Homo sapiens: one gene and its partners. The protein of the gene in region 4 purifies or fractionates together with the protein of the main gene of each other region. This does not show direct contact. Each region holds a gene or a part of one and is shown on either strand. Other genes may lie near its edges. The genes, in order: MRPL23, PC, SUPT5H, PPT2 and IARS2.

Region 1 (5,941 bases), on a different chromosome or scaffold from region 4:
TGTGGACTGGATGCAGCTGGGGTGGGGGTGCCGAGAGGGTGGGATCCTGGGTGAGTCACTCGTGGGGCCGTGGGGAGGCAGGCTGGTGGCAGTGAGCCAGGTTTTTGTGTTTTGAGGAAGAAGTTAGTGCAGAGTTCTACTTGAGATAGGTTACCGTGGAGGTGCTTGTGAAATCCCATGCGGAGTGCTTGGGGTGCTCCCTGGGGAGAGTGGGACTGAGGGAACTGAGGGCTGGTGGGCCCACAAGGGTTCGAGAACAAAAGAGAGGCCTTAGAGCCCTGTCCTGGGGCCCTGGGTGTCGACAGTGCAGATTGTTCCAGATCTGCAGGCTCCATGCACAGGCAGCTGGCGCTCCAGCCTGGAGAGGCTCGGCCTGTGGGAACAAGGACAGTGAATCGTCCTGGCCCAACCCCTGCCAGCCTCTCATCTCAAGCCCACACATGGCCCTTCAGACCCTTAGCAAAGTGTGCCCTTCAGGCCCCAAGCCTGGAGACTCGAAAATTAATGGCCTGGGAGCTGTTGAACCCTCTTTTCTACTGTTTACTGGGAGTCCCCAAACTTTGTCTCCACTCCTGCAGTCCCACAGCTGGTCACCAGAGGGAATGTGTGAGCCCCTCGGGTGGCCATGGCTAGCCTGAACCTGTGGGTAAAACAAGTCAGGCCCCTCCACCTCCAGAGCCCACCCTTTCTTCTCGGCCTCTCACTGGGGCCCACCCCTGAAGGCTGCACTCTGAGGCTTGGAAAGGCCAAGGCCATGCCCAAGAGGAGGCTCTGCTGGGGTTGGGTGAGTGAAGACTCAGCCCCACTGGCCCGGCCACCAGGCTGCCATGTGTCAGTGTGGTCATCAGGAGGCCTGGGGTGGACATGATTAGTGATCGGGCTTTGTTACAGGCGCCTTGCCTCTGAGAGGTCCCAGCAGCTCCTGGCCCCTGCCAGGCCCTCAGGCCCAGAGGCTCAGTGCTGCCTACCACTGTTGGCCCTTCAGGAACACCCCACCCAAGGCCTCTGACCCTCACTTCCTCCTCATCTTCCCTAGACAGGCAGAGGCCAGCGTGAAATTCATGTGAAGCCTGGGGCAGCGTTGGCCTCACGGAGCCCCTCTTAACTTGGTGCTGGGTGCTCCCAAGGCCAGGGCCATGTGCAGTGCCTCAGATAAGGCCACCAGAGACCCCTCAAGAGCCCCTGTGCTCCCCGTCCACCAAGACCTGCACCTAGGCTCTCAGACCCCACATCCCCCGAGACCCAGCAGGCCTGAGTTTCTCCTGTGCCCCTCCTCCCCCCAGCTCTGAGGCCCAGATAGAGCCAGGGTGTGCCGGCAGTGGCAGGGGCGGGAACGGGGGTGGGGGACGGTAGGACGGTGCTGCCTGTCCACCCAGCTGAACGTGGGAGAATGCACGAAACCAACTGGCTAGAGATTCTGCACGATCGTCACCTGGCCCCCCAGCCCAGGCAGCGTGCTGGTCTAGTTTGCGGTGGCCACTTGGCACCTCTCCATCTGCCTCTGCTGGCTTTTAGTGGAGTGCTGGGGTGTGGTGCACTCAACTCACATTTAGTGTACTGAATCAGAGTCTTGGCAGCACCGTCTTCCAGGAGCCTAAGCCTGGTTAGCCTGCGTTCTCCATACCGAGGAGCTAGGCCCTGCTGCCACCGGGAGAGTGCGGAGCTGGCCTTTTCTGTCCCATGGTGTGTGGTTCTCTGCAGCTCCACTTCACCCGAGCAGCAGGAGAGTGGGCCGGCCGCGTGGGGTCTGCTCTCCCAGGGGTATCAGTGCCCCAACACACGTCTTTGAGCCTTGCCATCAGCTTATTGGGGGAATGCTGTCTGCGGGGTTCTGATTTTTGTCCATTGGCCTTTTCTAAAGTCTGACCTTGGGGGTCAACAGCGCATGCTCCTTAAGTCGATGCTAGGGACTGGCCGTCCACCTTGGCAGGCCCATGTGAGAAAGGGGCTGTGGGGACCTCTGTGTCCTTGGGTGGTGACCTGCTGATAGCTACCCCGTTTCCCGCCCACCCCTGTTGTGAGTGGACACGCGGGGGTCTGCAGGGTTAGCTACCCTGTTTCCCGCCCACCCCTGTTGTGAGTGGACACGCGGGGGTCTGCAGGGTTAGCTACCCTGTTTCCCGCCCACCACTGTTGGGAGTGGACACGCGGGGGTCTGCAGGGTTAGCTACCCCGTTTCCCGCCCACCACTGTTGGGAGTGGACACTCAGGGATCCGCAGTGTTAGCTACCCCCTTTTCTGCCCACCCTGTTGTGAGTGGACACTCGGAGGTCTGCAGGGTTGGTGTGTCGGGCTGCCTTGGCCTAAGTGTGTGACATGGACCCAATCTCTTCTGTACAGGTACCCCCTGTACCGGCTGGGTGGCCCACAACTTCGGGTGTTCCGAACCAACTTCTTCATTCAGCTGGTGCGGCCCGGTGTGGCCCAGCCCGAGGACACCGTGCAGTTCCGGATCCCCATGGAGTGAGTCCGGGAGGATTCCGGCTGGGGTTGGGGAGCACCCTCGGGGGGATCCCCGTGGAGTGAGCCCGGAAGTTTTCCCGCTGGGTTGGGAGAGTGCCCTCAGGGGGGCCTGGGTCCTGAGTTAAAACAACTCTGCTCACGTGCTAGCCTCTTCCTGCTGGGAAGGCACCTCAGGCGGCCCTGCCCGGCAAGTATTGATGGAGTGCCTGTAGGTGTGGAGCCCGGCAGGCAGGCTGCACGCCGCCCTCCACCCGGGGACGGCTTCACTGGAAGCCTTAAAATTTGGACCTCTGTGCTCGCGTCTTCTGTTGAGTTCTTGCAGCTTCTTTTTAGGAGAGGCGCCCTGAGAGGCTGGGTTGGGAGCAGGCCGTGATGTACAGAACCGCTCAGAAGAGCCTGCTTGACCTTCAGAGAAATGCACAGTCCCTACGAGCAAAACTGGGGTGCTGCTCTGCAGTGTTTAAGTTCACAGGTCCCCAGCTCAGGGTTGATGCGAGCCAGGCGGGGCAGCAGCGTGAGCTCCCCTGGGGGCGAAGGTCAGGCCTGTGCAGCCTGCAGGGGCCCAGAAGCTGAGTTGACAGTGACCGTGAGGTTCTGCAGTAGAGGGAACTTGCAGTTAACGCACCGAATGCCAGGCAGGCCTTTCCAGAAGGTACTTCCTAGAACCGCATCAGTCCCATCAGCCGCAGAGCAGGCCTAACCCTGATGCGGCCACTGGGCCCCGGGGCAGACGAGGTGGGGCACCTGCCAGCCAGGAGCGTGCAGAGACTGTCACCTCCTCTCACAGGCACTTGCCCGGAGCAGGGAGCCATGTGGGGCTGTGGAGCAGGCCAGGGGTTGGTTGGGCAGTGCTCCCACTCTGTGGGGTCTGTGCCACTGCCACCCCATGCTGGTGTGCCCAGAGTAGGGAGTCTTGCAGCCAGCAGCACTGGTGTTGCTGGGGCTGCCTGGCCTCACTAGTGCCGCTGATGTACCCAGCCCTCCTCCCTGCCCCCTGTGGGTCTTGGTCTGTCGGCCTCTCAGCCTCGGGTGCTTGTGCATCTGGGACAGTATTTTTGGCTTTTAGCCTGGTTAAGATGCCGTTTTCTTTCTCCTTCGCCTCCAGAATGACAAGGGTGGACCTCAGGAATTACCTCGAGGGCATCTATAACGTGCCCGTGGCTGCTGTGCGGACACGGGTGCAGCATGGTGAGTGCCCATGGGAGGTTCTCCTGTTGGTGTCGTGCCCATCTGTGCCACATGCCCACCTCGCCGAGCCACAGCCTCAGCTACTGCATGGGGGTCTTGGTCTGACGTGGCTCATGGGAAACTGAGGCACAGGGTGACTTGTCAGGGTCACACGGTGCTTACGTGCCAGAGCAGGGATTGGAATTCAACTGGGCTGGCCCGGGGTCCATTCTGAGCCCTGACTCCTGCCGTCAGCCCCCGAGGTGGGACTGCAGTGGCTGAGGCTGGGGAGCAAAGCGCTGTCTGTTCCATAAGCCCCTGTCGTGTGCCCTGGCTGGTGCCACGTCCGCTCCTTTGTTGAGAACCTGCTGGCCTCTGTTGGGAGAAGGGAGGAGCCTGGGAGCCTGCTGTGCTGGCTCGTTTGATTACAGTGCCCATTTCCCTGAGAAATCGCCTTTTTGAGTTTTTAAAAACATATTTACATTTTTAAGAGAGCAGAGGTTCGTTTTAGTGGCATTGACCTCTGAGGATGTAATTTTTTAAAGTTCTGATTTTTTTAAAGTTCTGATTTTTTTTTCACTCCCTTCCGGCAGGCTCTAACAAGAGAAGAGATCACAGAAACGTGAGGATCAAGAAGCCGGACTACAAGGTCGCCTACGTGCAGCTGGTGCGTGTGAGCTGGCCAGCCCCAGCGGGGCCTCCGAGGGGCTCCTCGCAACTGTGTCCTTGGGGATGTTTGTGCCGGAGACGCTGCGCTGGGGCCCAGGGAGCCCCCGTGAGGCCGGATCTCAGGGCCTCAGCGCAGAGGCAGGCTCCACATAAGGTCATGCTCCGTCACGGCCTTGGGGGTGTTAGTGGTGGCGCTGGGAGCACGTGAGCACTGGGGCACATGGGGCACGTCTCAGCGTCCGGCCGTTTTGTGATTTTGAAGTTTGAATTCTCTGTGGGCAAAGGCAGCCATCACAGGCCTAGTGGGTTTCAACTCCAACGCACACCAGGGTGTCAGAGCATGGGAGGCCCCGGCCTCTGGAGAGCCTGTCCTTGGCTGGGTTTCAGCCTCGGAGGCAGAGTGTGAGGCCCCTGAGGGCAAAGGTCTTTGGTGCCAAGGCAGGTCTGGCTGGCCGGGCTGTTGGCTGAGGCCCATGTCCTGCATTGCAGGGTAGCAGGTCCCACGTACTTGTTAGGGCTCAGCAGGCTGCTTCTGAGCAGGTGCTTTCTTACGTATCCTGGGGGGCTCTGGGGAGGAAGAACCCTCACCCCACGTTGCCTGGGCCTTCAGTTTCTGAAACCCAGACTTGTCAGGAGTGAGACCCACAGTTTCAAAGCCTTTCTTTGGGCTCTTCATTTTGAGTCCCAGGCAAACCCAGAGGCACTTTCTCTCTGGGCCAAGATGTCCACAGCCTGCCCCGGCCGCCTCCTGGGCCTCCCCACTCTGCCCCTGGGGCTGGCCTTACTGGGTGGGGATGGGGTTGTCTTCCGGTGTAAATGGTCCCTGGAGGCCGAGCCGGCGGGCCCTGCCACTAGATGGCAGTCACACGATGGTGGAAACCGCCTCCTGGGCCAGCCGGCCTGTTGTGGGGCTAAGGAGGCAGTTTGTGAAAAAGGCCAAGTTAGCATGGCAGCTTTTCTGAAAAACAGTCACATTTGTTGTTCTAAACAGGGGCCCCCGGAATAATTTGGCCTGATATTTGCTGTGCATGAAATCAGCCAATCCAGGTGGGGAGAGCAGCCGTTGGCCTCATAAAGGCCTCTGTGTGCTCAGTGTCAGTCGGGCCCATCTGTCTTTGTCATGGCATGTGGGTGGACATCCCGTGTGCCGGCACCGCCACGGGCACTTCAGAGGCAGCTACGGTTACAAGTGGCATTCAAGTCATCCGAGCCCTTGCGTTCTTCCTCTGGGCCCCACCTCCCATGAAAACTGAACCCAGCAGCTCCGGGATCCGGTGTCTGCAGCTGCTGCCCGCGTGTTGTTCTCCCTCTGTGAAGTCCAGGCAGCCAGAGACAGGGCAGGGCAACTGGGAGCCTGAAGGGTCCCAGTTGGGCATGGATCCTCCTGTTCCAGAATGAAAATTTGTAACGGGTCCTCACCCCCCTTCCTGAACTCCAGCACATCTTTGCACAGCCTAGAAATGGGCCGTGGCCGTTGGTCCCTGTCTGCCCGCAGAGGGGACTCTCAAGGCCCTTTCCTGTCTCGTGTCTGCTGAGACCTTGCTCAGCGTGTCCCCCTGGGCCCTGCGCCAGGGCTTAGAATCACTGCTAATTGCAAAGCCCAGGGAGGGAGCATTGGAAAGGTAAAATTATCCACGTTATT
Region 2 (6,057 bases), on a different chromosome or scaffold from region 4:
AGAGGAGGAAGGGAATGCCTGCCGCAGAGCGGGAGAGGGGCCCGGGCAGGCAGGGGCCAGCCCTGCCTCTATTCCCACGGACCTGCTGCACCTGCCTGAGCAACCCTCTAGCCTTTCAGACTCATCCACGTTCGTTCCACAGCACGGATTGAGGTCTGCTGACCCGGCCGCTAAAGGGCCTCGCCGTGGGCTCCCAGACAGCGAGGGGACGGCAGGCCGGCGACAGGGCCTCCAAAGGACCATGTGCGAGGCAAGAGGCAAGGCTGACCGGGGGTTTGTTTTTGTTTTTAACAGGGTGGTGGGGAAGGCCTCAACATCCACCCATGCTCCCTTCCTTTCCTTTCCTTTCCTTCCAGAAGGGAGGATGGGAGGGAGAGGAGGCAACGAGGAGGAAGTGGGAGAGGAAATGAAGGGAAAGTGCCAGAGGCAGGGTCCACACCCATCAGGGAAGCAAACCAAGGGCGAGGAGAGGGCAGCGGGGCAGCGGGACAGGGCCAGGGCCAGACGGCAATGGGAGGGGCAGCGGAGAGGAGGAGACAGAGGCGCCGACACTCACACACACAGGTGGCTCGTGCCGCCTGCACCTGTTCGTGCCGCCCGAGTGAGCCCCGCAGAGAAGGGCTCCCCGGAGGTGGGGGACCCGTCAGGCCCAGGTAAGGAAGAAGGGGAGTGGGGGGACCGCCCAGAGGGGCTCGGGACACCCACTGCCCATTTCCGCTTCTCGGGGGCAGAGGCCTGTGTTCAATAAAAAGGAACTTCATAAAATATTTAAGGGTGAACACTCAGCTGAGAGCAGAAACTGTCGGCTAAAAATACTCTGTGATGAGGCAGGCTCTGAAGAGCCAGGGCTTGGAAGTGGGGATGGAGGGAGGCAGAGAAGTCAGGGGCCGCCGGGCAGCACTCAGCCTGGGGCTGCCGCCACCTACAGACTCTTCCAGAAACAGAAGGCAGGTGGCCAGCTCCCTGCTGAAGCCACAGGCTCTGCTGCTTCCAGAATCCAGAGAGCTCTGGTCCCTACCCCCAGCCTCCCCAGCCTCCCTTGTCTCAGAAGCCCAGAGCCTGGCCCAAACTCATGTTTGCTCCCCTCACCGCCCCACACAAGCCCGGGGGCCTCTGCCTTGGACTCTGGAGCAAAGCTGGAGCTCCATCAATGTCTTGCCTCCTTTGGGGCTCAGGCCCCTGGATAGGGAGCAAGTCCCTAGCACAGCTGGCACGGTGCTGGCAGCACGTGCAGGGCTGGGAACAGGCACCGAGCAGGCCGCAGGGCTCCTGCCCACAGCTGGGACCAGAGGCGGGGGAGATGGGTTTCGGAGGCCAATGACTGGGTCCCGGTGCTGAGAGGAAGAAAGGTACAGGGAGCCCTCCTGGAGAAGGCGCGAGTCTTGCTGTGCTGAGGAGCCTGCCGTGGACCGCCTCAGCGCCCCCTACACCACTCTCTCCCCCACCAAGGCTGCCATCTCGCGGCCCCGAATCTACCTCTCGGTCTCCCTCCTGTGCCGCCATCTCCGACTCCCTCCCCCATCCTTGATGGGCCCCTGAGCTTGGCTCAGACTCCATTGGGACCTCTGGGCCCAGTCCTTTGCCACCCCCACCCCCAGGTCCTGCCATGTCAGCCCATCCCTCAGATGGGAGGTGGTGCTTGGGCTCCGTCGGCAGCCAGGCGTGGGGCTCCTGTGGGAGCTGGAGGGTCAGGGGCTGGCTTTGTGTCTGGGTCCCTGCGTTTTGCTCCACCAAGCCAGCCTGCTCCCCGCTCCCACCCTCACGGCTTCCTCCTGACCTGGGCGCCCAGCAGTCTCTTCCCCTGGGAGGCGCCGCCCCTCCTCTGGGCACTGCCTGCCTCCGTGTACTCTATGTCCACTTCAGAGCCCACATGCGGGTCCTCCCTAACTGCCGGGCTGTGGCAACTTGGCACTGCAGCCCCAGGCACCAGGCAGAACCTGTGCACAGGTGAGCTGGCATCTCCCTCTGCTCGAGCTCCGCCCACCTCAATGCGGCCGGTGTCCGGCTGGAAGCTGCGCGCGGGGTCCTCGGTGGTGACCCGGCACTGGATGGCACACCCGTTGATGCGGATGTTCTCCTGCCGCAGGCCCAGGTCGGGTAGGCTCCTGCCCTCAGCCACGTGGATCTGAGCATGGACCAGGTCTACGCTGTAGGGCATTGGGGGGAGGGGGGAAAGGACGGGAGAAAGGGGGAAACATGAGGCGGGGGATAGACGAGGGGCACCGCAGCCAGTGGGGCGTCCACACACAGTGCGACTCCTGCCCATAGGCTCTGGGCCAGCCTGAACAGCCGGTTCCTCCCAACCAGTGGCTCCACCAGCCCCTGCCCTGCTCCCGCCGGGAGCCGACTAAACTACACAGTGCCTGGCAGCTGGAGATGGCCCGCTGAAATACCAGGACCACCTGCTCCTGCATTCCTGACTCACGGTGCCGTCCACACAGCCCTAAGCTGCTCCTCCCTGTACTCTGCCTCCTCCTTCCTTGAGGTCTGTTTTCCCCACTCCCCTAAACTCCCCCTTGGTAAAGCCTAGATTTGAAGCCTCAGCAGATCTCTAGGTCAGAGGGCCAGGATAGCACATTCTTGGGGCCATATGTGCTATGCTGTGTGGGTGGTTGTGAGGGGGGCAGTGTGCAAGGGAACAGGTGCTGTGAAGGCTGGGCTCCTCGAAATGGTAACCACAGCTGTGAGAGGGTTGCACAGTGGGTGCTGGGTCAGGACCTGTCCTTCTGAGGCCTGTTTTCCTGCTGGACTTGTGCCCAAAACCCCCTAGAGATGCTTGGAGAGTGCAAGCTTCCCCACCTCTGCAGGGTTTTCCAAGCTCAGCCTTACTGCTCCTAAGGGCAGTCACAAGTCCAAGTGGAACAGCTGTTTAAAAAACAAAACAAACAAACAAAAAAACCAGGCTGGGCACAGCAGGTCATGCCTGTAATCCCAGCACTTTGGGAGGCCAAAGTGGGTGAATCCCACGAGGCCAGGAGTTCGAGACTAGCCTGGCCAACATGGTGAAACCCTGTCTCTACTAAAAATACAAAAATTAGCCAGGCCTGGTAGTGTGTGCCTGTAATCCCAGCTACTCAGGAGGCTGAGGCAGGAGAATCACTTGAACCCGGGAGGCAGAAGTTGCAGTGAGCAAAGATTGCACCACTGCACTCCAGCCTGGGTGACAGAGCAAGACTATGTCTTAAAAAAAACCACTCAAGGTTTTACATGTATTGCCACTGAGGCTTGTGGTGAAGGCAGCCTGGAACCTACACTGGCAGGATTTCCCCGTGTTCTTGCTGCCTGCTGGCCCACTTCGCAGCAGAGATGACAGCTTCCACTCAGTGCCACAGGCCAGGCTGCACTCCTCCCATGCTTCATCTCCACGACGGTGTGCTGAGAGCCCTGTCATTCCCACCAGAGGAGGAGCTCGAGGGTCAGAGAGGTTGGAGCTCACCCAGGCTCCACGTGGCTTGGGACCTGAGAGCACCTGAGCCCCAATCTGTCTGACACAAAACCCGTGCTCCACAGCAGACAGACTCCCATCCCTAACAGGACGCTCTAAGCAGACCCAAGACCGAGGAGTTCACAGCAGCTTGAGGGGAAGAGTCTCACTCGGCCAAAGTGTTGGCCTTGTCTCTAAGCTTCTCCTAAGGGGAGGGAGGGGCCTCCATGCCCCCGGCGAGCCACAGCAGCCACCCCGACAGCATCCTCAGTCTCAGGTGGGGTTGGGGCTGGGGGCAGAACTGGGGTCAGGGATGCTCCACAGTGAGATGGGCTGGCCCAAAGCAGCGTCAAGAAATTACATGGCTCATAGTAGAGACCTTGAAGGGTGAGGGCCATCATGACTGTCATTTAGAAACCAGGCGGATTTTGAAAATGTCATCCTCAGTGCCTGCAGGGAGCACGCTAGTGCCACCTCTCTAGAGGGCTGTTCCGAGGGATGCTACTTATCCTTCAATCAGATAATCCTGTTGAAGGGTTTACCCTCAGAACTCTTCAGAGCTGAAGCCAAACATTCAGGCACACAGATGATAAGTGACACGCTTAATAACCACCAAAGCCAGACACACAAACTAATTGCCTAACAATCGAGGACTATGTAAGTTAAGAAATACACACAAGACGGAATAGTACGCAGCCACTAAAAGTATTCAGACAGAATTATGGCCTGGGGAAATGCCTTCAACAAATATTAAATAATTTGAAAAGTAGAATAAAAATTCTATATAAAACATCTCTATTGCATCAAACTATGTCTCTAGTAAAACAGGTAAACCGGGAAAGGAGCAAACCAAAGACAGCCGGAGATGCCTGGGTTCCAGCGCCAGCTGTGTGACCCCGAGCAACTCTCCAAATGTCTCTGAGCCTTGCTTTACTCCTCTGACAGATGGGAGCACCTGGGCCTGAGCAATCGGCAGCGTCCTGACAGAGAGGAGGGCTGTCAGTCATTTTTATTTGCTCCTTTGTGCTGATTTTTATAATAACCACGTAATGCTTTTAGAATAATGACTTTTAAAACACTAAGTACCTGGATCCCCATTGCTCTCCACCAATGTGGGGAGTGAGCAAGCCCCCTGGCTGGCCCCAGGAGCCACTTCGCCTGTACTTTATGCAAATCCTAGAAGCCGCGCCTCCCGCCCCGCCTGCCCGCCCACACTCACTCGGTGATCTCCTCTGTGACCGTGTGCTCCACCTGCAGGCGGGAGTTGACCTCGATGAAGTAGTGCTTGCCGTGCCTGTCCACCAGGAACTCCACGGTGCCTGCGTTCTCGTAGCCCACCTGTGGGGGCGGCCACGTGAGCAGGGGAGGGCACAGGCAGGGCCTGGGCAAACTCACTGGACTCAGGACAGGGATTCCGTCCCACCCATTGGGTTGGTTCCGTAAAAGAATGGCCTGTGGCAAACCCTGCCCCCACAGATGGCAGACAGACCCCAGGGCCCAGGTCATGCTCCTGCCTGGACACGTCCCCCAAGTAGTCCACTAGGCTCCAGGGTTCCCGGAGCCACAGATGGCTGCACCCAGCTTATCTGGGACGAGACATGGGCAGAAGCCCCCACCCATCCCAGGCTCGGCACCTTGCCCTGCTGCCTCCTGGGCTTGCCCGCCAAGGCTGTGTCATCCACCCAGACACGGAGACCCAGGCCTCTCCCAGCCGCTGCTTCTGCTTGGAGGTGTTTTCAGAAAGTCCCCTTCTAGTCTACTGCGCAGTCACCTCTGGCCACCACCACCCAAAGAAATTCATTTGAGAGGTACCAACAGATAATGACTCTAACTCAAATTTCAGCCCTAATTCCAGTTTCACTTTTGGTCTCACCAAAACGATAAACCAGACTGAATCACCTCCCTTAAACCTGTTCTGGAATGTGAAATAGTATAAGCCAGTAAATAAGACCTGACTTAAACGCGACCCTGGTCGATGCCTCGCATTAGCTGTGGCTGAGGCCTTGCTGCAGAGTGCACACCCCGGCCTTCGGCATGGGGAGGTGACGCATCCTCTGCTGCCTATAGGCCAGGGAAGAAGAGGGGGCAGGACCCCGCTGCACACCTGGCCACAGCAGGTGCTCTCCAGGCCAGTCCTGGGGCAGGTCACTGTGGGGAGATAGCTTGCCACCTCAGCCTCCTCCACAGCCCAGGACCCCCCGACCAGAGGTCCCAGAAAAGCAGAGATGGGCAGAGGGTGCAGAGCAAGGAAACAGATCATAATAAACATGATGTAGGAGACAGAAGCACATGAGGGAGGACTGCCTTCATAATGGTCCTCAATCTTGACAGAATCCACGGAATCTCATTCTCCTGATGACAGGGATGAGCTGATGCCACAGAGAAGCCAGGTCTGTGTAGCAGCAGGGCTGAGGAGGCGGCTGGGGCTCCTTCCCTCCCTCTTCTCAGCCATCCTGGACTCTAAGCTTGGCCTCTGGGCCAGGTGCCTCAACTGCACATGGGAAGGATGCCACAAACCCACTTCTGGCCCCCAGGAGAGTCCTTCACCCTCTTCTCCCCATCCCCAGTCCCCAGAAGGGGACTCAGGGTCCCCTTCCCCAACCAGCGCCCCACTGTGAGGCCTGCCGGCCTGT
Region 3 (6,057 bases), on a different chromosome or scaffold from region 4:
GGTCTCCTCAGGGCCCTGCACGTGGGATGATGAGTTCCTGTGGTTTGTGGTTCCCCCATCCCCTGCCTGCCAGTTCACTCCTTGCTTCTATCCTAGCCCCGTGATGTGACCAACTTCACCGTGGGTGGCTTTGCGCCTATGAGTCCCCGGATCAGCAGCCCCATGCACCCCAGTGCTGGAGGTGAGAGGGGTTCAGGGTCAGGGGATGTGGTGGGTAGAAGGGGCTGGAAGGAACTTGGTTGTTCAGCCTACACTCACTGAGTGCCTGTGCTGGGCTGGGCACTGCTATTAGGGGTTCACCACCCACAGGAGGGTAGACGCCACAGTGACAGCCCAGAATGGTCAGGGCTTCCATAGGAAAGCCATGGGGCAGGGGTGGGCAGAGGAGGCTCTTAACCCAAGTAGGGAGGAGTCAAGCAAGTGAAGGGGACGTTCTGATGGTGCCCTTGCTGTGGGCACAGCCGTGGGGGACCAGTGACATTCTCCCCAATCCCCAGGTCAGCGTGGCGGCTTTGGTAGCCCAGGTGGCGGCAGTGGTGGCATGAGCAGGGGCCGGGGCCGGAGGGACAACGAACTCATCGGCCAGACCGTGCGCATCTCCCAGGGGCCCTACAAAGGTGACCTGCGAGGCCTGTGGAGGCCTGGGGAGGGGCATGGTGAAGGAGAGCCTGCCCAGCCTGACCTCCTGTCCCCCTGCAGGCTACATCGGTGTGGTGAAAGATGCCACAGAGTCCACGGCCCGTGTGGAGCTGCACTCCACCTGCCAGACCATCTCTGTGGACCGTCAGCGGCTCACCACGGTGTACGGGCGGGGCCTGGGGAGGGCCAGGGTGGGGCTTGCTAGGCAGTGAGAGGGGTCTGCTCACCCCATTTGTTCTCTGCGTCCCCAGGGGCTCACGGCGCCCGGGCGGCATGACCTCGACCTATGGGAGGACGCCCATGTATGGCTCCCAGACGCCCATGTATGGCTCTGGCTCCCGAACACCCATGTACGGCTCACAGACACCCCTCCAGGATGGTGAGTGCCCGCAGGGGACAGGGAAGAGGGGCTAGGGGGACCTAGAGAAGGGACAGGACAGACACACTCATTTCCCCCATTCCAGGTAGCCGCACCCCACACTACGGCTCACAGACGCCCCTGCATGATGGCAGCCGCACTCCTGCCCAGAGTGGGGCCTGGGACCCCAACAACCCCAACACGCCGTCACGGTGAGTCCAGGGTTCCCCAGGTTCTGGTGTGTGCTGGTGTGTGTGAGGGATGATGCTGGGTGTCTGGGGCATTGGAGGGGTTTGTGGGGCCCACCCAGCATTCTCTGCTCCTAGCCTCAGGCTGGTCCCTTTGAAGGAGGAGGCATAGCATGGCGGGGCGGGGGCAAAGCGGCCTCCTCTCCATCCCCAACCTCAGTAGTGATTGTGGTTACCCTTGGGCCTGGAGAAAGACTGCCTGGGTGGAGTGACCTTGGGAGGGCACCCTCATCTCTGTCAACCACAGTGTCAGCTGTGGAAGGGAAATAACATCAGGAGTGCCTCTGGATGGGGCTCCCGTGAGAATGAAATTGCTTCAGTTGGGGGTCTGGTGTAGGGTGCTGTTCTGGAAGCATCCATCGCATTATCACCACAGTCGCTGTCAACAGACTTTTCTCCCAACAGGGCTGAGGAAGAATATGAGTATGCTTTCGATGATGAGCCCACCCCGTCCCCGCAGGCCTATGGGGGAACCCCCAATCCCCAAACACCTGGCTACCCAGACCCCTCGTCCCCACAGGTCAACCCACAATACAACCCGCAGACGCCAGGGACGCCGGCCATGTGAGTCCACTGGGGCCTGCCCTCGTCTACCCCTGCCCAAACCCTCCTACTGCCACCACCTCTTTTCCCCTCCCTCCTCCAACAAATGCCCCCTTCTCTCCTGTCTCTGCAGGTACAACACAGACCAGTTCTCTCCCTATGCTGCCCCCTCCCCACAAGGTTCCTACCAGCCCAGCCCCAGCCCCCAGAGCTACCACCAGGTGGCGCCAAGCCCAGCAGGCTACCAGAATACCCACTCCCCAGCCAGCTACCACCCTACACCGTCGCCCATGGCCTATCAGGTAATGGTCTGCCTGCCTGCCCTGAAGGGTGGTGGGCTAGGGTGACTTTGGGCATATAGGGTCGGCCAGGCCAGATGACTATTCCCAATGACACTTCCTCTTTCCCCTGCAGGCTAGCCCCAGCCCGAGCCCCGTTGGCTACAGTCCTATGACACCTGGAGCTCCCTCCCCTGGTGGCTACAACCCACACACGCCAGGCTCAGGCATCGAGCAGAACTCCAGCGACTGGGTAACCACTGACATTCAGGTGAAGGTGCGGGACACCTACCTGGATACACAGGTGGTGGGACAGACAGGTGTCATCCGCAGTGTCACGGTACGTGGGGCCCAGGGTGGTGGGTGAGCAGGCATCCTCTCCTTGGTACCCCCTAAACTGGAGACAGACCTGTCCCCAGATGGTGACAGCCCAGAGTGGGCAGAGCTGGGATTGAGGAAGCCTAGAGGGCAAGGGGAGCTATGTGAACCCAAAGGAGGCATCTTACCTGATTTAGCGGGGAATCAGGGAGGGCTGCCTGGGGAAGGAGAAATCTGAGCCAAGACCTGACAAATGAATAGGAGTAAGCTAAGGAAAGTGACTGGGGTGAGTGAGTTCCAAATGGAGGGAACTGCATGTGCAGAGGCCTGGAGGTGAGGGGAACCTGGGCACATTCCAGGAGCTGAAGGGTTTGTTGTGGCTGGAACATAAAGAGCCAAAGGGGGCCAAGCAGTGCTTCACACCTGTAATCCCAGCACTCTGGGAGGCCGAGGTGGGCAGATCACCTGAGGTCAGGAGTTCAAGACCAGCCTGGTCAACGTGGTGAAACCCTGTCTCTACTAAAAATACAAAAAAAAAAAAAAAAAAAAAAAAAGCTGGGCATAGTGGCGCATGCCTGTAATCCCAGCTACTTGGGAGGCTGAGGCAGGAGAATCGCTTGAACCCAGGAGGTGGAGGTTGTGGTGAGCCGAGATCGTGCCACTGCGCCCCAGTCTGGGTGACAGAGCAAGACTCCTCAAAAAAAAAAAAATGGTGAGTGATGAGGCCAGAGAGTTGGCTGGGGCCCTGTCATGCACCAGCCTGGAGGACCTAGACTGTCCAGAGGGCGCCGGAGAGCCATGAAGGAATCTAAGCAGGAGAGGGGTGGGAGCAGATCTGTGGTATGGAATTCTCCATCAGTGATGGATTGGGGGTGGGGAGACTGGGCTGGGACCCCAGGGGGAGGTTGGGCTGCACTGGGGCAGGGCTGTGGGGAAGAGGCAGGAGGCAGGTGGGAGAGACCCTCACGGGCTGAATGGCCAGGCCTCAGAGCTAGGGGCTTGTTGGTGAGGGAGGTGACCAAGATGAGGTCCAGAGCTCTGGTGGGGCCTGCAGACCATGGGGCGGTCCCTGAGACCAGGTCCAGGAAGAGGAGCAGGTGTGGGGAAGACGCTGAGGCCAGTTTGGGACATGAAGAGTCAAGAAGCAGTCTCCTTTTTGCCTGTTAGCTTCATTCTGATGCTTCCCTTGCTGATTGGGTCACCCTGTCCACCCTGACATGCACCACAGGCCCCAGGCCTTGGAACCAGGCCCAGCCTTGGCCTTTCCTGCCCCCATTTCACCTTGAGTTCTCAGAATGAGCCCTGAGCCTGTGTCCCCTGGAGTATGGGCCTCAGTCCCATGTTGGGAGCAGGACAGGCTGACCAGGCTGTCCCCATCCTCCAGGGGGGCATGTGCTCTGTGTACCTGAAGGACAGTGAGAAGGTTGTCAGCATTTCCAGTGAGCACCTGGAGCCTATCACCCCCACCAAGAACAACAAGGTAAGGGCAGGGGGCAAGGAGATAAGATGGGGCCGTTGGGTGCTGACATGGACCCTGACCATATTCCCCCCACCCCCAGGTGAAAGTGATCCTGGGCGAGGATCGGGAAGCCACGGGCGTCCTACTGAGCATTGATGGTGAGGATGGCATTGTCCGTATGGACCTTGATGAGCAGCTCAAGATCCTCAACCTCCGCTTCCTGGGGAAGCTCCTGGAAGCCTGAAGCAGGCAGGGCCGGTGGACTTCGTCGGATGAAGAGTGATCCTCCTTCCTTCCCTGGCCCTTGGCTGTGACACAAGATCCTCCTGCAGGGCTAGGCGGATTGTTCTGGATTTCCTTTTGTTTTTCCTTTTAGTTTTCCATCTTTTCCCTCCCTGGTGCTCATTGGAATCTGAGTAGAGTCTGGGGGAGGGTCCCCACCTTCCTGTACCTCCTCCCCACAGCTTGCTTTTGTTGTACCGTCTTTCAATAAAAAGAAGCTGTTTGGTCTAAAAGTGCGTGTGTGTGTGTGTGTGTGTGTGTGTGTGTGTGTGTGTGTGTGTATGCCGTGGGAATGAGGGTGTTGTTTTTAAGTGGGGTCATTTGCAGACCCCACTTCCTTGCTTTGTGGTTGGGGCAAATAACTGGACCCTACCTAAATCTGTTTTCCCATCTAGATAATAGTGATAGTGCCTGCCCCAGAGAGCTCTTGAGGGGAGTGTGTATGAGAAGACGTCGGAAGGAGATGATCAGAGTAGAGCTTGTCATGTGATTGATGACATTATATCTTATTCAGGCATGAATTATGCTAAGTGAAAATCACAGTATCCCCCAGGAAACCTAAATTCCTCCTGTGGTGCAGGATACAGTGCTTGATGGTCCTTTTTCTTTGTTTTCTCTTTATTTTTATTTTTTTGAGATGGAGTCTTGCTTTCTCACCAGGCTGGAGTGCAGTGGCACGATCTTGGCTCACTGCAACCTCCGCCTCCCGGGTTCAAGCGATTCTCCTGCATCAGCCTCCCCAGTAGCTGAGATTACAGGCGTGCACCACCACACCCAGCGAATTTTTTTGTATTTTAGTAGAGACAGGGTTTCACCATGTTGACCAGGATGGTCTTGATCTCTTGACCTCGTGATCCGCCCACCTTGGCCTCCCAAAGTGTTGGGATTACAGGCGTGAGCCACCGCACCTGGCCTTTTTTTTTTTTTTCCTCCCCTGAGACAGAGTCTCTCTCTGTCATCTAGGCTGAAGTTCAGAGGTATGATCTCGGCTCACTGCAACCTGTACCTCCTGGGTTCAAGCAATTCTCCTGTCTCAGCCTCCTGAGTAGCTGGGATTACAGGCGTGAGCCACCACGCCTGGCTATTATTATTTTTTTTTTTTTGTACTTTTAGGAGAGACGGGTTTCACCATGTTGGCCGGGCTGGTCTTGAACTCCTGACCTCGTGATCCGCCCGCCTCGGCCTCCCAAAGTGCTGGTATTACAGGCGTGAGTCACTGCACCTGGCCAATGATCCTTTTTTTTTTCTTTTCTGTTTGAGGTGGGGTCTCCCTCTGTTGCCCGGGCTGGAGTTCAGTGGTGCAGTCATTGCTCACTGCAGCCTCAACCTCCTGCGCTCAAGCGATCCTCTTGCCTCAGCCTCCTAAGTAGCTGGGACTACAGGCGTGTGCCACCACGCCTGGATAATTTTTTTATTTTTAAGTTTTTCATAGAGACGGGTCTCACTATATTGCTCAGGCTGGTCTCGATCTCCTGGCTTCAAGTGATCCTTCTGCCTCGGCCTCCCAAAGTGCTGCAATAACAGGCGTGAGCCACAGTGCTCAGCGGTCCTTTTTCTTGAACCCTGATAGCAGTGACACCAGGATTGCTGTAGTTCATCCAATGACTTGGGGGCAGGAGTGAGTGCAATCTTAGAGACTGGGGCTTAGTACCCAGAACCTGTTTCCCTTCCTCGTTAGATATTCCTGTCTTTTTACAAATGTAAATGTATTATAAAACATTTCAGGCCGGGCGCAATAGCTCATGCCTGTAATCCCAGCACTTTGGGAGGCCGAGGGGGGCGGATCATTTGAAGTCTGGAGTTTGAGACGAGCCTGACCAATATGGTGAAACCCTGTCTCTACTAAAAATACAAAAAAAATTAGCTGGGCATGGTGGCGGGCGCCTGTATTCCCAGCTACTTGGGAGGCTGAAGCAGGAGAATCGCTTGAAC
Region 4 (6,057 bases):
CAAAAATGCATTACTGGCCGGGCGAGGTGGCTCACACCTGTAATCCCAGCACTTTGGGAGGCCAAGGCCGGCGGATCACCTGAGGTCGGGAGTTCAAGACCAGCCTGGCCAACGTGGTGAAACCCCATCTCTACTAAAAATACAAAATTAGCTGGGCGTGGTGGCTCAAGCCTGTAATCCCAGCACTTTGGGAGGCCGAGGAGGGTGGATCATCTGAGGTCAGGAATTCGAGACCAGCCTGGCCAACACGGAGAAACCCTGTCTCTACTAAAAATACAAAATTAGCTGGGCGTGGTGGGCGCCTGTAATCCCAGCTACTCAGGAGGCAGAGGCAGGAGAATTGCTTGATTCTGGGACGCAAAGGTTGCAGTGAGCCGGGATGGCGCCACTGCACTCCAGCCTGGCGACAGAGTGAGACTTTGTCTCAAAAAAAAAAAAAAAAGAGGCCAGGTGTGGTGGCTCATGCCTGTAATCCCAGCACTTTGGGAGACCAAGGAGGGTGGATCACCTGAGGTCAGGAGTTCAAGACCAGCCTGGCCAACATGGAGAAACCCCGTCTCTACTAAAAATACAAAATTAGTTGGGCATGGTGGTGGGCGCCTATAATCCCAGCTACTCAGGAGGCTAAGACAGGAGAATCACTTGAACCTGGCAGGCGGAGGTTGCAGTGGGCCGAGATTTGCCATTGCACTCCAGCCTGGGCAACAAGAGTGAAACTCCAACTCAAACAAACAAACAAACAAAAAGATACTAAAGAGACGTAACAAGATCATGCAACTCAAGATCCTGATTTGGATCTTCCACTGTATATTTTTTTCTGTAAGGACAGTTGGAAAAATTTGAATAATCTGTGAGCGCATATTCAGGAAAATTTGAATCTATGTTTATATTTAAATATAACATTAACGTATATAAATAAATGTATATATATTTAGAGAAAAAAGATATTAATGTAAACATGACAAAATGTTAACATTTGCGAAATCTAGGTGAGGAGTATAAATGACTGCTTTTTGCTATTTTGGTAACTTTTTTTTTTTTTTTTGAGACAGGGTCTTACTCTGTCACCCAGGCAGGAGTGCAATGGTGAGATCTCGGCTCACTGCAGCCTTGGCCTCCTAGGCTCAAGCAATTCTCGTACCTCAGCCTCCCAAGTAGCTGGGACTACAAGGGCACACCACCACGCCCAGCTAATTTTTGTATTTTAGGTAAAGACAGGGTTTTGCCATGTTGCCCAGGCTGGTCTCAAACCCCTGGGCTCATGCCTCGGCCTCCCAAAGTGCTAGGATTACAGGCGCAAACTTTTCTTAAGTATGAAATTATTTCAAAATAGAAAGGTCTTAAAATCCTTTTTTTCTTTTTTTTTTGAGACAGAGCCTTGCTCTGTCACCCAGGCTGGAGTGCAGTGGCACCCTGTCGGCTCATTGCAACCTCCGCCTCCTGGTTTCAAGTTCTCCTGCCTCAGCCTCCTGAGTAGCTGGAACTACAGGCGTGCGCCACCAGGCCCACTAATTTTTGTATTTTTAGTAGAGATGGGGTTTCTCAATGTTAGCCAGCTGTTCTCGAACTCCTGACCTCAGGTGATCCACCCGCCTCGGCTTCCCAAAGTGCTGGGATTATAGGCGTGAGCCACCGCACCCAGCCAGATGGAGTTAAAATCTTTTAATTAAAAAATATTGGCCAGGCAAGGCCGGGTGCGTGGGCTCACGCCTATAATCCTAGCACTTTGGGAGGCCGAGGCGGGTGGATCACGAGGTCAGGAGATCGAAACCATCCTGGCTAACACAGTGAAACCCCGTCTCTACTAAAAATACAAAAAAATTAGCCGGGCGTGGTGGCGGGTGCCTGTAGTCCCAGCGACTCAGGAGGCTGAGGCAGGAGAATGGCGTGAACCTGGGAGGCAGAGCTTGCAGTGAGCCGAGATCACGCCACTGCACTCCAGCCTGGGCGACCGAGCGAAGACTCCAACTCAAAAAATATATATCTATCTATATATAGAGAGAGATATATATTGGCCAGGCGCAGTGGCTCACGCCTGTAATCCCAACACTTTGGGAGGCCGAAGCAGGCGGATCACAAGGTCAGGAGATCGAGACCATCCTGGCTAACACAGTGAAACCCCGTCTCTACCAGAAATACTAAAAATTAGCCAGGCATGGTGGTGGGCACCTGTAGTCCCAGCCACTTGGGAGGTGAGGCAGGAGAATGGCTTGAACCCAGGAGGCGGAGGTTGCAGTGAGCCGAGATTGTGCTATTACACTCTAGCCTGGGCGACAAGAACAAAACTCTGTCTCAAAAAAAAAAAAAAGGAAGAAACAGTGACTTGGAACATGAAAAATGTTATATAACCATGAGCTATCACTGTCATTCATAGGGTTGTGGTAGATGTGAAATGACATGATGTACATAAAACTCATCACTTACTATTATATTATTACAATATTTTAAGAGATGTCCTGCCTTCACTGAAAACTGTCCAGTGCCTTCCCATCTCACTCAGAATTTAAAAAAAAAAATCAAAAGCCTGGTTACCGGGACTGTCGGGAAATAGGGATGAGGATATATATATATATATATATATTTTTTTTTTTTTTTTTTTGAGATGGAGTTTCGCTCTTGTTGCCCAGGCTGGAGTGCAATGGCGCAATCTCAGCTCACTGCAACCTCTGCCTCCCAGGTTCAAGCGATTCTCCTGCCTCAGCCTCCCAAGTAGCTGGGATTACATGCATGCATCACCACACCCAGCTAGTTTTGTATTTTTAGTACAGACAGGGTTTCTCCATGTTGGTCGGGCTAGTCTCGAACTCCCGACCTCAGGTGATCCACTGCCTCGGCCTCCCAAAGTGCTGGGATTACAGGCGTGAGCCACCACACCCAGTCTATTTTTTAATGGGTATACGGTTTCAGTTTGGGGAAAAAGAAGTTCTGGAGATGGATGGTGCTGATGGGTGATGGTTTTACAATGATGTGAGTATACTTAATGCCACAAAACTGTACATTTTTAAATGGTTAAAATGGCAATTTTATGTTATGTATATTTTATCACAAAAAAAAGAAAAAAAAATATCAAGGGCCTTACCTTGACCTGCTAAGGTTTGACATGCCTGGTCCCCTGCTACCACTTTTAGCTCCTCTCCTGTCCTCTCCCCAGCTCCTTGTGCACTAGCCATGCTGGCCTCCTTATTGCTCACACGTGCTTCAGGGCCTCTGCAGGTGCCAGACCTTCTCCCTGGGGGGTTCTTCCACCCAGAGCACAACTCCCTCCTTCACTTCCTTCAGTCTCTAATTGAATGGTGACTTTTCCAGGAGGACTTCTTCGGCCACTATTGAAACTAGGCCCCGGACATCCTCTAATCCTTTCCCCTGCCTTATTACCTGACATATATATTTGTATGTATGTATCAGCTATCTTACAAACTAGAATATAAGCTACATAACATTAGGGACTTCTCTTTTATTTACCACTGCATCCCTAGGGCCCAGAACAAGCCTGCGCCCATAATGTTGAATAAATATTTGTTGAGCAATTCAAGTAGCTCAGGTGACATTACAGATCACACATGGTGACCTATAACACAGGCAAGCACATAGTACCATGGAGCCATGGATTTTTTTCTAAGGAATAGGATGGAGGGGACAAAGCTGGAGGCTGTTATAATAGTCCAGGTAAGTAAAGAGGTGGTAGGAAATGTGATAAAATGGTATAAAACTACACACACACATTGAACCAATGTGAATTTCCTGGTTTTGATACTGTGCTATAATTACATAGGATGCAACCACTGGGGGAAGCTGGGTGAAGGGCCTTGCTATACTATCTTTGCAATTTCCTATGAATCTATAAGAATTTCAAAATTAAAAGTTTTTATAAAGTGGGGGAGGGGGTGATAGGGATGGAGAGGAGAAGAGTCAGCAGGACTTAGTGACTGGCTTGATACAAGGGGTTGGGATATGACTCCCAGGTTTTGGTCTTGGGTGACATGATGAATGGGGGGAGGAGCACTAACTGAACAGTGGAAGGAGCAGGCCAGTTTAGGCATGAGATAAAGACCAACTGGGGTTGGGGGATGTCTTTAGCCAATCTTCAGGCCACAAAATCCCTTATTACCTGGACTGCCAGGGAGTAATAACACCATCATCAGGGCCCCCAATCAGCACCAGGTGGCCCACACGCAGAAAGTTCTTCCGCCATACTGTAGGATGGGAAGAAGAGAGGCTGAGTCAGCCACAGGGGTCAGGCCAGGTTGGAGAGGGAGACATAGGGAGTCAAAGAAGCAGAAAAAGCAACACAGGTAGGAGCCTGAATTCTCACCTGTGGCATTGGGATGGTCTCTTTCCCCATTGATCAGGGCCAGGAAGCTGCTGGCATTGAGGTACAAGTCATCGTGGTGGGGATCTGGGTACAAACAGCAGTTAGAAAAAGAAGCAGAAAAGGGAGGCAAGACTGGTGGTGAAAAGCCCAATAAGGAAGCTGCAGCAATAGTCAAGGTGGATAGTAATAAAATAGTAGTGATAATGTAGGCCAGGTGCGGTGGCTCACACCTGTAATCCCAGCACTTTGGGAGGTAGAGGCAGGTGGATCACTTGAAGTCGGGAGTTTGAGACCAGCCTGGCTAACATGGCGAAACCCTGTCTCTACTAAAAATACAAAAGTTAGCCAGGCGTGGTGGTGCATGCCTGTAATCCCAGTTACTCGGGGCGCTGGAATCACTTGAACCCAGGAGGTGGAGGTTACAGTGAGCCGAGACTGCACCACTGCACTCCATCCTGGGAGACACAGTGAGACTCCATCTCAAAATAATAATAGTAGTGATAACAACCGTAAACATAGTAACAAGTACTTTTTTTTTTTTAGATGAAATCTCACTCCGTCACCCAGGCTGAAGTGCAGTGGCAGGATCTCCGCTCACTGCAACATCTGCCTCCCGGGTTCAAGCAATTCTCCTGACTCAGCATCCTGAGTAGCTGGGATTACAAGCGTGTGCCCACATTCAGCTAAATTTTTTTTGTATTTTTAGTAGAGATGGGGTTTCACCATGTTGGCCAGGCTGGTCTCGAACCCGACCTCAGGTGATGCGCCCACCTCCCCCTGCCAAGATATTGGGATTACAGGTGTGAGCCACCACACCTGGCAATAGCAAGTACTTCTATCTAGTATCTACTATATGAGCCAGGTACTATTCAAAGTACATTGCATTCATTTATTTATTTAATCCTTACAACCACCTGGTGAAGTACATGCTATAATATTTTACAGATAAGGAAAACTGAGTAACAGAATGGTTAAGTAACTTGCCCAAAGGCACCCAATAGGGTCAAGATTCAAACCCAAGTATTCTGGCCCCATGGTCTGGTCTAGAGGTTGGCAAACTGTGACCAAAGGACCAAATCCAGCCTGCTACTTGTTTTTGTAAATGAAGTTTTACTGGAACACAGGCACATTCATTCACATATGGTACATGGCTGCTTTCACACTACAACAGCAGAATTGAGGAGTTGTGAAACAGACTATATGTCCTACAAAGTCAAAAATATTTACTCTCTGGCCCTTTATAGACAAGGTTTGCTGACTCCCACATCAGACTAAACCTTCTAAGGCAATAAGGTGACACACTTAAAACATTCTGGGCCAGGTGCAATGGTTCACACCTGTAATCCCAGCACTTTGGGAGGCCGAGGCGAGTGGATCACCTGAGGTCAGGAGTTCGAGACCAGCCTGGCCAACATGGCGAAACTCCATCTCTACTTAAAATACAAAACTTAGCCGGGCATGATGGCGCCTGCCTGTAATCCCAGCTACTAGGGGGACTGAGGCAGGAGGATCACTTGAACCTGGGAGGCGGAGGTTGCAGTGAGCCAAGATGGTGCACTGCACTCCAGCCTGGGCAACAGAACAAGACTCCGTCTCAAAAAAAAAAAAAATTCTGAACAGAGCCTGTTCAAATAACTCAATAAATGTAAGTTATCTTTATTGTCATCACTGCTATTGGTTGTAGCAGAGGTGGAAGCAACTGACCTGATCCATGGAAGCCCCAGTTCAGCATCCCCACTCACCAT
Region 5 (6,057 bases), on a different chromosome or scaffold from region 4:
AAAAGAGAAAGGAAAAAGGAGACAACACCAAGGTGTCTTGTGAGTGTGATGCAGATCATAACTCTTTGAAGAAAAAGTCAGCATTGACTGGAGTAGTTGGGGGAACTTATGTAGTTCTTTGTTGTTGTTGTTTTTTTTTTTTTTTTTGAAAAAGGATCGCATTCAGTCACCCAGGCTGGAGTGCAATGGTGTGGTCAGAGCTCGCTGCAGCCTCCGTCTCCTTGGCTCAAGCAATCCTCCTGCTTCAGCCTCCTGAGTAGCTGGGATTACAGACATGCACCACCACACCTGGCTAATTTTTAATTTTTTTTTAGAGGTGCGTTCTCCTCCCATTGCCCATGCTGGTCCCAAACTCCTGGCCTGAAGCAGTCCTCCTGCCTTGGCCTCCCAAAGTGGTAGGATTATAGGCGTGAGCCACCATGCCTGGCCTAGAACTAGATCTTGATCTATGGTAAAACTTGACTAGGAGGAATGTAGGGAAGGATATTCAAGGTTGAGAGAAGACAGCCTGAGTGCAGATGTCCTTTATATTTGTAATATCCACAGTGGCTAGTGAACTGAAACATTGCTTTCATGAATTTTATTAAATTAGGTATTCTCATTTAGTACACATAATTACTTTTTCAAACGTGTGGGTGAAAGTACTAATCAGAAAGATTCCTAAATAGCTTAGCTTAAGATTGTGGCTCTCTTAGGATAAAAACCCATCCCAGAACATTTCACATGTTTCTTTTTTTTTTGAGATGGAGTCTTGTTCTATTGCCTAGGCTGGAGTGCAGTGGTGCGATCTTGGCTCACTGCAGCCTCTGTCTCCCGGGTTCAAGCGATTCTCCTGCCTCAGCCTCTCGAGTAGCTGGAATTACGGAGCATGCCACCATGCCCGGCTAATTTTTGTACTTTTAATAGAGACGGGATTTCACCATGTTGGTGAGGCTGGTCTCAAACTCCTGCTCTCAAGGGATTCACCCTCCTGAGCCTCCCAAAGTGCTGGGATTACAGGCGTGAGCCCCCACGCCTGGCCCTTTTACATGTTTTTGTTTCTTAACATGCGTTTTAAAGACCAGTAAAAGGGCAGATCCTATTTTTTTCAAATTGTCTTTTGAAAATAATTTTGAGATGATAATCTGCTCTTTTTAAGACATACTTTTTCCTGGTTTTATTTTTTCATTTAAAATTTTTTTTTTTTTTTTTTTTTAGTGAGTTATATAGTTTTTCCGCTATCACCACAAGAGGTTTTATAACATTTCCAACACACTAAAAAGTTTTCTCATGCCCATTTGTGACTAATCTCCACTCCCACCCCAGGGCCCCTGGCAACCACTGATCTCCTTGCTGTCTCTGTAGTTTGCTCTTTCTAACCTGGTTAGTTTTAATGATAAAATCAGTACATAGCAGAAGCTCAGAAAATAATCTGTTTAGTGATGAAAATATCTAAAGTTTTCCTTTGTGTAAGTCGAGAGTTAACTGTTTGACTATTGTGATACATGAGCTAAGAATGACTTTTTTTGTTTGAGATGGAGTCTTACTCTGTCTCCCAGGCTGGAGTGCAGTGGAACGATCTCAGCTCACTGCAATCTCCGCCTCTTGGGTTCAAGTGATTCTCATGCCTCAGCCTCCCAAGTATCTGGGACTACTGGCACACACCACTATACCCAGCTAATTTTTGTATTTTTAGTGGAGACAGGGTTTCACCATGTTGGCCAGGCTGGCCTCGAGCTCCTGGCCTCAAGTGATCTGCCTGCCTTGGCCTCCCAGAGTGTTGGGATTACAGGCGTGAGCCACTGCACCCAGCCGAATTTGACTTTTAAGGAAAGGTTTCGGCCGGGCAGGGTGGCTCATACCTGTAATTCCAGCACTTTGGGAGGCCGAGTTAGGTGGATCCCCTGAGGTCAGGCGTAGGTAGGAGAATCCCTTGAACCTGGAAGGCAGAGGTTGCAGTGAGCCGACATCATGCCACTGCACTGCAGCCTGGGCAACAAGAGTGAGACTCCATCTCAAAAAAAAAAAAAAAAAAAAGAGAAGAAAAGAAAAGAAAAGGTTTTATTCATAATCAGTCAAGAAAAATCATATTTTTGTGTCAAACTTAGATACTCTTTTTAAGCTGTACCTAATCTTCAAAAAGATAATTATAATTGTGTTTATCATTAAAATAGCTGATTTGTCCCTTTAGGACAGTGATTGTTCATGGATTTACCCTTGGAGAAAAGGGAGAAAAGATGTCCAAGTCTCTTGGGAATGTCATTCATCCTGATGTTGTCGTTAATGGAGGACAAGTAGGTGATTCTCTAAAATGTATTTTATTTTCGTTTTAAGGATCTTAAATTGGCAGCCAAAGCCCTTAATATAGTTACTTCAATGTAAAAATAAAAACTATCTTTTATACTCTCAAATAACACATGATTGTAATGAAGAAGGCAGAGGCTGGGATTGTGGTCCTTTTAACTTATTTCAGGCCTGACTCTCCAGTTAGGTCCCAAACCACGCTGTTTCTTTTTTAATTGTCTGAGAGCCTTTAAAATGTGTAGATCCTTTTGTGATTCGTAAGCGTGATGATTGGGTTTTCGCACTATTGTGTGAGGTGTGCCTCCCTCAAACCTTGTTACAGTGTTGGCACATTGCTGTCTGAAGTGAAAAAAGAATATGTAAAGTGTGATTGTGTAGTTAAATGGAAATGATGAAAAATGAGATTGCAACTTCAAAATGCGCATTTCATTATTATATTGTTGAAAATTATACACTTTAAAGCAGGTCCTAAATGTACATCAAATCTGAGGTTGCTGATAATTTGGGGGGGTTTTTGGAGCTGCTTTTGTGAATTAAATCATTTGTCTGTTTTTTTCTATTTTTTAACTCCTGTAGCTTTTTACTGCCCGCCTAACATCCTGTAACCGTTCATTGTTTTGTGTACAGAGTTGCTAGGAAATAGTGAAAGGAAAAGCAGTCCTTCCTCTTCCCCTCCCTTATTATAGAGACCTCCCTGGCACTGCTGTGTGTCTAACCACCAGCTGTAATAGAGGAAACAGACATGACCAGGGAAGAGATTAGGTATGAGCATTTGTGCATTGAACAAGATTGCAGAGCACGCTCTTTCTTTTTCCAGTTTTGTTTTTAGATACAGTCTAATTTGAGATTGTTAGCCCGCATTTCATTACAGTGCTAGTATAGTTTGTACTTACATTGTGCTCAAAAATATCTGAATAGGAGCTTTACCTAAAACATTTGTTCGGCTAATTGGAATTGAAAGCCATTGTGTTTATATATTTTTTTCTCAATGAAAAGGATCAAAGCAAAGAGCCTCCGTATGGTGCTGATGTCCTTCGCTGGTGGGTAGCTGATTCCAATGTCTTCACCGAAGTTGCAATTGGCCCATCCGTGCTCAATGCTGCCAGAGATGATATTAGCAAGGTTAGAACTATTATTCTTCCTATTTCTAAAGGACAAGTTTGTCAAATCATTGTTTTAAAAAATGAGACACATTTTGTTTGGAACTGAAAAAAACTGAATGAAAACGAGTTCTTCATTTATTGTGAGATTTTAAGAATCTCCTGTGTTGGCCAGGCATGGTGGCTCATGCCTGTAATCCCAGCACTTTTGGAGGCAGAGGCAGGTGGATCACGAGGTCAGGAGTTCGAGACTAGCCTGGCCAACATAGTGAAACCCTGTCTCTACTAAAAATACAAAAATTAGCTGGGCATGGTGGCATGCACCTGTAGTCCCAGCTGTTCGGGAGGCTGAGGCAGGAGAATCACTTGAACGCAGGAGGCGGAGGTTGCAGTGAGCCGAGATCGCGCCACTGGACTCCAGCCTGGCGACAGAGCAAGACCTTGTCTCAAAAAAAACAAAAAACTCCTGTGTAAATTTATTTGTTTCAAAACATTGGTAGTAATACCAGTAATTTTATATAATTTGTATATAATATCCTTTATATTTTATTAATATATAAAATGTAATATAGCATAGTATAGATTATATTAATTTTGTATACTTTTATGTACTCAATAACCTTTCACATTTTTCCATGTATCTTTATTTCATTGTGAAGCAAGTGAAATAACATTATTCTGACCCACACACATGAATAAACTGGGCTACTGAAAGGTGATTTGCCCCAACGTAATAAAGAAATATAATGAAAATTCAGTCGTTAGGCGTAAAATCCAGTGGTTGTTCCTATAACTGGGCTATTGGAATAAGAGTTTGTTGTGTACTTTTTGTTTTTTATTTTTTTACATTTGTAGTCTTATTTGGAATGATAATAAAAATACCCCACTAAGAAAATGACAAGAGTTAGTAATAAAATAACTTTTCAGTGAAAATTGAAGGCACCATTAGATTTTTTTAACTGCATATTTTTTCTTCCTATGAATAGCTTAGGAATACACTTCGCTTTCTTTTGGGAAATGTGGCTGATTTCAACCCAGAAACAGATTCCATCCCTGTAAACGATATGTATGTCATAGACCAGTACATGCTACACTTACTGCAGGATTTGGCAAACAAGGTAAATGTAAATTAATAAACTTTTGGAAACTAGAAATATCAGCACTATTGTAGGTTAAAATTTTAGTTTTATCTGAGTGGAACAGACCTTGCTGGAAATAGTAACTATAGCACTCTTGAAGAGAAATATGTCCAGACTTCCCCTCGGACCAGATTTTTCTCTCATGATTAGCTCTATTTTTCCAACAAGAAGGAATAAAGTGGAGTTATACTTTATCTGCACATGTGCTCCTCATAATAAAGTACAGAAATAACCAAAATGGACTATCCTATTTGTCTCATAAGATACTTACTCATTTTCATATAGACTTAAATAATTTCTGTTTTCTGGCTGGGTGTGGAAACTCACACCTATAAATCCTACTACTTTGGGAGGCCGAGGTGGGAGGATTGCTTGAGGCCAGGTGTTCAAGACCAGCCTGGGCAACAGAGCAGGAACCTATCTCTAGAAAAATTTTAAAAATTAGCCAGGCGTGTTAGCCAGTGCATGTAGTCCCAGCTCCTTGGGAGGCTGAGGCAGGAGAATCGCTTGAGCCCATGGTTTTGAGGCTGCAGTGAGCTGTGATTGTGCCACTGCACTCCAGCCTGGTTGACAGAGTGAGACCCTGTCTTAAAAAAAAAAAATTGTGTTTTCTCATAATTGGAAATGTGTTTGCATTAGTGTACCCTTAAGTCAGAGGTGTACATACCAATTTTGCCCAAATCAAAAATAAATGAGGCATAAATGAAGGAACACTAATGAATTGTTGGTGACGTCCACTGTTTGCTGTTGTTAAAATGGTGTGATTTTGTTATTTACAATCTCATTCTTTCCTTAATTAATGTCCTTTCGTAGTTCTCAGAGTAAAATAGTATTTTCTGAGTGTAGTCAAATGTGTTATCCAGAAATGACATTTGGAAGATTCCCAGGAGTTCTTGCATATTGCCTGTTTTGTATTTGTCTCATTGAAACATATTTTTGAAAGGAGCATATTTTGCTTGTGATGACTTACATTTTCATTTGCCTGTCTCAGCTTCCAAATTTATTTTGGCTTTGTTCCCTAGATTACCGAATTATACAAACAATATGATTTTGGAAAAGTTGTTCGGCTGTTACGGACGTTTTATACCAGAGAGCTCTCTAACTTTTATTTCAGTATAATCAAAGATAGGTATGTATGACTAAATATTAAAATGCTTAACAATGGCCAGGTGTGGTGACTCACGCCTGTAATCCCAGCACTTTGGGAGGCCGAGGCGGGTGGATGACATGAGGCCAGGAGTTCGAGACCAGTATGGCAAAATACAAAAATTAGCCGGGCATGGTGGCACATGCCTGTAATCCGAGTCACTCAGGAGACTGAGGCACGAGAATCGCTTGAACTTGGGAGGCGGAGGTTGCAATGAGCAGAGATTGTGCTGCTGCACTCCAGCCTGGGTGACAGAGCAAGATCTCGTCTCAAAAAATAACAACAACAAAACCTCAACAAGTATTTTTTGAGTGTCTACTTGTGTTTGGCAACCGTCAGGGATACAGTGATGAGCAAGATGGGCAGTGTTGTGCAGTTATTAAGATTG

What was found.
Region 1: the proteins of PPT2 (region 4) and MRPL23 fractionate together in Homo sapiens (co-fractionation; one large-scale study listed by BioGRID). This does not show direct contact.
Region 2: the proteins of PPT2 (region 4) and PC fractionate together in Homo sapiens (co-fractionation; one large-scale study listed by BioGRID). This does not show direct contact.
Region 3: the proteins of PPT2 (region 4) and SUPT5H fractionate together in Homo sapiens (co-fractionation; one large-scale study listed by BioGRID). This does not show direct contact.
Region 5: the proteins of PPT2 (region 4) and IARS2 fractionate together in Homo sapiens (co-fractionation; one large-scale study listed by BioGRID). This does not show direct contact.

Annotation. Positions count from the first base shown.
Region 1 is NC_000011.10:1,948,559-1,954,499, forward strand, and holds part of MRPL23 (large ribosomal subunit protein uL23m), read left to right. Parts: intron 1-772; exon of another isoform or gene 773-918; intron 919-2,340; coding exon 2,341-2,463; intron 2,464-3,568; coding exon 3,569-3,651; intron 3,652-4,223; coding exon 4,224-4,297; intron 4,298-5,941.
Region 2 is NC_000011.10:66,864,203-66,870,259, forward strand, and holds part of PC (pyruvate carboxylase, mitochondrial precursor), read right to left. Parts: intron 4,763-6,057; coding exon 4,644-4,762; intron 2,148-4,643; coding exon 1,985-2,147; intron 1-1,984. UniProt on the Homo sapiens protein: Pyruvate carboxylase catalyzes a 2-step reaction, involving the ATP-dependent carboxylation of the covalently attached biotin in the first step and the transfer of the carboxyl group to pyruvate in the second.
Region 3 is NC_000019.10:39,472,313-39,478,369, forward strand, and holds the end of SUPT5H (transcription elongation factor SPT5), read left to right. Parts: intron 1-96; coding exon 97-181; intron 182-497; coding exon 498-617; intron 618-699; coding exon 700-802; intron 803-890; coding exon 891-1,018; intron 1,019-1,103; coding exon 1,104-1,209; intron 1,210-1,650; coding exon 1,651-1,809; intron 1,810-1,921; coding exon 1,922-2,090; intron 2,091-2,202; coding exon 2,203-2,406; intron 2,407-3,768; coding exon 3,769-3,864; intron 3,865-3,943; coding exon 3,944-4,087; 3' UTR 4,088-4,358; downstream 4,359-6,057. UniProt on the Homo sapiens protein: Component of the DRB sensitivity-inducing factor complex (DSIF complex), which regulates mRNA processing and transcription elongation by RNA polymerase II.
Region 4 is NC_000006.12:32,155,976-32,162,032, reverse strand, and holds part of PPT2 (lysosomal thioesterase PPT2 isoform a precursor), read right to left. Parts: coding exon 6,055-6,057; intron 4,397-6,054; coding exon 4,313-4,396; intron 4,194-4,312; coding exon 4,109-4,193; intron 1-4,108. UniProt on the Homo sapiens protein: Catalyzes the cleavage of thioester bonds from S-palmitoyl-CoA or S-palmitoyl-N-acetylcysteamine (unbranched structures) but does not have activity against palmitoylcysteine or palmitoylated proteins, branched structures or bulky head groups.
Region 5 is NC_000001.11:220,134,639-220,140,695, forward strand, and holds part of IARS2 (isoleucine--tRNA ligase, mitochondrial precursor), read left to right. Parts: intron 1-2,170; coding exon 2,171-2,273; intron 2,274-2,525; exon of another isoform or gene 2,526-2,628; intron 2,629-3,279; coding exon 3,280-3,405; intron 3,406-4,369; coding exon 4,370-4,501; intron 4,502-5,544; coding exon 5,545-5,651; intron 5,652-6,057.